Linked DNA regions of Homo sapiens. The protein of the gene in region 2 interacts with the protein of the main gene of each other region in a pairwise test. Each region holds a gene or a part of one and is shown on either strand. Other genes may lie near its edges.

Region 1 (3,500 bases), on a different chromosome or scaffold from region 2:
AGCCATAGAAAGATTGGACCTGCCTGGCAGAGTTGGTAACTGGGCTTTTGTTATGATTCTGTTCCTCAGTAAGTGTAAACAATCTGCAGACATCATGTTCTCATTACATAAGCAAATCCCGTTAAGACCCAAGATAGAAACCGAACCTTTGATGAGCAAACCACTCTCCAGTGTAGGTGTCATTATTGATGTAGTAGTATACGCCATGGCCGTGCCGCAGGTCATTTGCCCACTCTCCTGAAAGGAACAACACAAAGGCAAGCCCAGGTGAGAAGAAGGGATCGATGCCCTGTACCATGTCTTCAAATTGTTAACCATGGCAAAGGCAGATGTGTTGTGAAGCAAATGAAGCCCATGCACACACAGGCCCCTTCTGCTCAGGAAATCCTGCAGAAGAGAGATTTTTAACAGCACCGACCAAGGCTGCTATCTGTTTCCACTCTGACATCCCTCCACCCCTTCCTTTTGTGCCAGATGGCATAGGTGCTGAGCCACGGTGGACAGTGGGCTAAGAGAGGGCTGAGTCAGGAGTTCACGGGGTACAGAGTGAGGTGTATGGATGTGGGCCACAGCCACCTGCATGTACTGACAAGCACATTTCACAGGTTAGTCAGAGGCACCACGAAGATGCAACGAGGAGGGAGACAAACCAAGGTTGTCTGACCCATTGCCAGTGATCCTAACACCACACTTCATTTACCTTGCAAATGTTTAGAGATCCAGCAACAACTCCAGGGCTTGACCATCTATCCTCAGCCACCTGGCAGCATTTCAGTCTATCTCCCACCCAATCATCTGACTCCAACATGCCACTCTAACCCCAGCTGCACACCAGCTCCATCCGCTGGTGCCATGCCTCTGTTTGAACTCTTCCCTCACCTCCTCACCTCCATACGGCTTCTGCTAAGTCCTTATAGGCTTGGTAGGCAGTACTGAAATTGGCAAGGATATCATAAAATTCATAATACCACTCCATGATGTGGACAACTGCAAACTACTTTTGTCAACCACAGTATGAATCCCTGCACTAGAAAACTCAAAACGTCCTCAAATCTTACAGCTCACTTAGGAAAGAAACTTAATAGAGGTCTCCCAAAGGTGACTGCTCTTAAAAACGTGCATATTACACCAAGTCATTAAGCTAAATGATATGTTTTGAGACTATGAATAATAAAAAGCAAATGTTGATCAATTTGTTGATCAAAGAGAAAAGAAGGAATTATATTTCTATTCTCTCTATAGAAAACATTACAAAATGGTTGCCATATGGAGAAGCATTCAAAGAGTATTAGCTAACAAAGGTAGAGAAAAGCTATTCTAGAAGTATGTCAGACATTAAAACTCAGGCTACTTAGATTCTGTGATGTTTGTGGTATTTTTAAATTTTTAACTTATTTTGATTTATCATTGCAAATGAAAATTCACTTTTATACCAACTTTATATTTTCTTTTTTTTAAAGAGGTTCTCAAAACTTACATAAGCTTCTGGCTTACACAAAAACTGGACCCACTTCCACATGAAGATAAAGAATACCCAATAGGCTAAGAAAATGCTAATTATTCAAGTAATATTTGTTTATGTGAATAACCCCAAAATTTATCTGCAGAAGGAACTTCTACATATTTATTTCCTCAATCATCCCATTATTTACTCAGCACCTACAATGTCCTGGGCACTTTGTGAGATGAACGAAGAGCTGTACAAAGGACAGTGCATGTCCCCAGGGCGCGAGCACCAGCCTGAGGATGGAAGGTTGGCACCTGAGCAGCAGCTGAGGACAGGGAAGGCAGCACGAAAAGCTGCATGGCACAATTTCAAAAAGTGGGTAAGTCATTCAGAAAAGAGCAGGCTTACCAAAAATTCATGGAGAGAGGGAAGGTGGCAACTGCTAACAATTAAGGAAGAGGACTAGGTCCCATGATGTGATGTGTGACAGGAACAATGTGAACAAGAGAGATGAAGATCCCCAAATTGAGATAATTCAGTAAAAAATACTTCAGGTCCCTGAACCTAAATTAACCATGAGGATGTGCAAATACCTAGAGGGATTTGTCTGGGTCTTAAGGGGCAGTGATGTGCCTGGATTTGTAACATTTGCCAGGTTCTGTGGTGTAAATACTCACACCGCGGCCAATTTCAAGCTACACATGGAGCTGGGAAGAGATGCACAGAATGGGTTTTTGTGAGCTACTATGAGGGGGTTCCAGCACAGCCCTGGGGCATAGAGACCTCAGCTGAAACAGGTACATCATTTGGTTTCTTCCCAACAAAACTTCATGACAAAATTATTACATCCCTCCTCTCTTGGCCATGTCAGAGGATCTCCAGGGTGTCATGGTGAGAAAAATATATTACATATTTTGCAGAAAAATTTCAAAAATAAAAGAGAACAGTTAAGTTGCAAAAGACACTAAATTTTGCACCAAGAGGACGGTGAGCAAAATTTTTTAAAGTCCCAATCTACTTAAAAAACCTGTTAAGAGGCTCGGCCCAGCATTTTGTAATGCCACCACAGGGACCCTGCACAAATAGAGAAGGTAATTCAGAGAAAAGTCACCTGCTGAGGCACATCTCTAACAGCTATAAGTCAAGTTTCCTTTTTTGAGGTGAGTGACATTTGTAAACTTTATTATTGTGGCTTTAAATTTGCACTTAATTTTTTTTTTAAAGTCTTTCTACCCCAATCCTATACTTTCTGATCATTCTTGAACTTGTCAACTGAGGTTTTTTCCAACTATATTTCTTCTCAGGAGTAACTCCCAGTTGGTTGGTTGGTTGGTTGGTTGGTTGATTTGTTGGTTAACTGGTTGGTTGGTTGGTTGGCTGGTTGGCTGGTTGGTTAGTTGGCTAACCGATTGGTTGGTTGGTTGGTTGGCTGGCTGGTTGGTTGGTTAACTGGTTGGCTGGGTGGTTGGCTAGTCAGTTGGCTGGTTGGTTGATTGGTTGGCTGTTTGGTTGGCTGGTTCGTTGGTTGTTTGGTTGGTTGGCTAGTCAGTTGACTGGTTTGTTGATTGGTTAGCTGTTTGGTTGGCTGGTTGGCTGGTTGGTTGGTTGGTTGGTTGGTTGGCTGGTTGGCTAATTGGTTGGTTGGTTAGACAGTTGGTTGGTTAATTGGTTGGTTGATTGGTTGCTTGGTTGGCTAGTCAGTTGGCTGGTTGGTTGATTGGTTGGCTGTTTGATTGGCTGGTTGTGGGTCAGTTGGCTGGTGTGGAGCAGGTGCTCCTTGGGTAGAGCAGTTTGTCTGGCACTTGGGATTGAAGACAATTTAAAATGAGAAGCTCTCCAAGATGCTCCTCCCCCCTCAAATGCTGGTTGGTCACTGGTTTGCCATGCTGGCCCATGGTCTTGCCAAGTTGGCTCCCTAAACTGCTGGGTCAGCCAAACACAGGAGAGAAGGAGCCCACACTTATGGGGAAACACTCGGTGTCAGACCCTGGGCAGGGTTCCGTGCACTTGCCACAGCATTTGGTATGTGTAATCGCTGAAATATGGTTTTACA
Region 2 (3,500 bases):
AACCAAAACAGTTCAGATAAAAGACAAAGTCTGTCAGACTGGATTAAAAAATTATTGGCATATTCAACATCATTAATCATCCGTGATATGAAATTTAAAACCAAAATGAAATACGTCCTCACATCCACACAAATGGCTAGAACTACAAAAACTGACAATACCAAGTATTGGAGAGGATGTGGGCAACCAAAACAAACTCTTATGTCTCTTCACTTTGTTGATGAGTGTAAACTGTTACAACCACTTTAAGGGACTGTTTGGCAGGATGGCAGGATCTACTAAAGCCGACCATATGCACACTCCATGACTTAGCAATTCCACTCGTATATATCCAACAGAAATGTTTACGTATGTATACCAAATCACACGTACAAGAATGGCCTCAATGGTCCCCAAACAGAAATAATCCATATATCCAACAACAGTAAAATGGATAAATCATGGCACAGTTGTATAACAGAATATTATAAAGCAATGAAAAAGAATGAACTACTGCCACACTCAACCACATGGATGAATCTAACAGGCGTAATGTTAAGAGAAAGAAGCCACACAAAAATGAATACACACCATATATATGATTTCCTTTATATAAAGTTTACATATGGACACAACTAATTTATAGAAGACAGAAAGTAGTCACCTTTCAGAGGGAGATTAGTGACTTAGAGGGTCATGACAAAGGCTTCTGGGGTACTAGTACAGTAGGATAAATTGGTTAAATAAGTATGTTCACTTTATTTGTTAATTTTACTATATGGATGTTAAACTTTAATTTCAAAAGTTTATTTAAAAAAAACCCAAACACTGATTCTTATCAGCAAAAACAAAAACAATCTTGGAGAAAATTGGAACAAGTATAAGTCAGAAAAAAAAATTTGGTATAATAATAAATATACAAAGAATCAATGTAAGATAAACCAGTAAAACAAAATTTGAACACACCAACAGAACAACAAAAGACATGAATAATGTAAAGGAAAATAAATAGGCCAATAAGCATAATGAAATACAATTCAGCCAGGCACACTGGCTAAGAGGTGAAGGTGGAAGAATCACTTGAGCCCAGAAGCTCATGGCCAGCCTGAGCAACATGGCAAGACTTCATCTTTAAAACTAAAATAAAATCGAAAAATAAAAAGTAATACAATTCAAAACAATCATGAAATAGTGTTAAAAATAAAAACCATATGACTGTCTCAATAGACATGAAAAAGCATTCAATAAAATCCAGCATCTCTTCATGATAAAAGCCCTCAACAAACTAGGCATCAAAACAATATCCCCAAAATAACAAGAGCCATCTATGATAAATCCACAACTAACATCATGCTGAAAGGGCAAAAGCTAGAGGCATTCACCTTGAAATTAGAAAAAGACAAGGATGCTCACTCTAACCACTCCTATTCAACATAGTACTGGTAGTCCCAGCCAGAGCAATCAGGAAAGGAAAAGAAATAAAATGCACCCAAATAAGAAAAGAAGTCAAACTATCTCTCTTCACAGATGATATGCTTCTATACCTACAGAACCCTAAAGATTCCACCAGGCCAGGTGCGGTGGCTCACGCCTGTAATCCCAGCGCTTTGGGAGGCCAAGACAGGGTGGATCACCTGAGGTCAGGAGTTTGAGACCAGCCTGGCCAACATGGTGAAACCCCATCTCTACTAAAAATACAAAAATTAGCTAGGCACGGTGGCAGGCACCTGTAATCCCAGCTACTCGGGAGGCTGAGGCAGGAGAATCTCTTGAACCCGGGAGGCAGAGGTTGCAGTGAGCTGAGCTCGTGCCAGTGCACTCCAGCCTAGGCAACAAACAAGAAAACTCCATCTCAAAAAAATAAAAAAAGTTCCACCAAAGGCGCCTGGAACTGATAAAGAACTTCAATAAAGCCTCAGAATATAAAATTAATGTACAAAAGTCAGCAGCATTTCTATACGCCAGTAACGTTCAAGCTGAGAGCCAAATCATGAATGCAATCCCATTTACCATGTCCACACAAAAAATAAAATACCTAGAAATACATCTAACTAAGATGTATTTCTACCAGGTATTTTTACATCCATACATCTTGGTTAGATATATTTTTACCAAGTAAAAGATCTCTACAAGGAGAACTATAAAACACTGCTGGAGGAAATCACAGATGACACAAACAAATGGAAAAACATTATATGCTCGTGGATTGGAAGACTCAATATCGTTCAAATGACCATATTGCCCAAAGCAATCTACAGATTTAATGCTATTTCTATCAAACTACCAACATCATTTTTCACAGAACTAGAAAAATATTCTAAAATATGCATGGAACAAAAAAAAAGCCTAAATAGCCAAAGCAATCCTAAGCAGAAAGAACAAAATTGGAGGCATCACATTACCACTGGATTTCAAACTATACTATAAGGCTACAGTAACCAAAACAGCATGTTACTGGTACAAAAACAGACACATACACCAATGGAACAGAAAAGAGAACCCAGAAATAAAGCTGCAGACCTACAGCACCTCATCTTTGACAAAATGGGGAAAGATCCCTCTATTCAGTAAAGGGTGCTGGGAAAGTTGGCTAGCCATATGCTGAAGAATGAAACTGGACCCCTACCTTTCACCATACATAAAAATTAACTCAAGATGGATTAAAGATTTAAAGTAAGACCTCAAACTATAAGAATCCTAGAAAAAAACCTAGGAAATACTTTTCTGGACACTGGCCTTGGGAGAGAATTTATGACAAAGTCCTCAAAAGCAATTGCAACAAAAACAAAAACTGACAAGTAGGACCTAATTAAACTAAAGAGCTTCTGCACAGTAAAAGAAACTATCAACCCAACAAATGGACAACCTATAGAATGGGAGAAAATATTCACAAACTATGTGTTGGACAAAGGTCTAATATCCAGGATCTACAGGGAATTTTAACAATTCAATAAGAAAAAAAAAACTCATAAAAAGTGGGCCAAAAAATATGAACAGACATTTCTCAAAAGAAGATATACAAGCAGCCAACAAACATGAAAAAAATCCTCAACATCACTAATCATCAGAGAAATGCAAATCCAAACTACAATGAGATACCACCTCATACTCCTCAGAATGCCTATTAAAATAAAAAAAACAGTTGCTGGCAAGGCTACAGAGAAAAGGGAATTCGTGTTCACTGATGGTGGGAATGTAGATAAGGTTAGCCATTGTGGGAAGCAGTTTGGAGATTTTTTAAAGAACTCAGAACTACCAAGGTTGGGCACAGTGGCTCATGTCTGTAATCCCAGCACTCTGGGAGGCTGAGGCAGGTGGATCACTTCAGGTCAACAGTTCAAGACCAGCCTGCACAACATGGTGAAACCCCATCTCTACCAAAAAATACAAAAATTAGCTAAGCTTGGTGGCGGGCGGGCGTATGTAGTCCCAGTTACTCAGGAGGCTGAGGTGGGAGAATTGCCTGAACCCAGGAGGTGGAAGTTGCAGTGAGCTAAGATTGTACCACTGTACTCCAGCCT

Evidence for each region. Proteins that work in one complex are often made in the same cells at the same time.
Region 1: the proteins of BTBD1 (region 2) and RSPH1 interact in a two-hybrid assay, tested with the Homo sapiens proteins (one large-scale study listed by BioGRID and IntAct).

What each region holds. Positions count from the first base shown.
Region 1 is NC_000021.9:42,486,225-42,489,724, forward strand, and holds part of RSPH1 (radial spoke head 1 homolog), read right to left. Parts: intron 238-3,500; coding exon 147-237; intron 1-146.
Region 2 is NC_000015.10:83,036,253-83,039,752, forward strand, and holds part of BTBD1 (BTB/POZ domain-containing protein 1), read right to left. Parts: intron 1-3,500.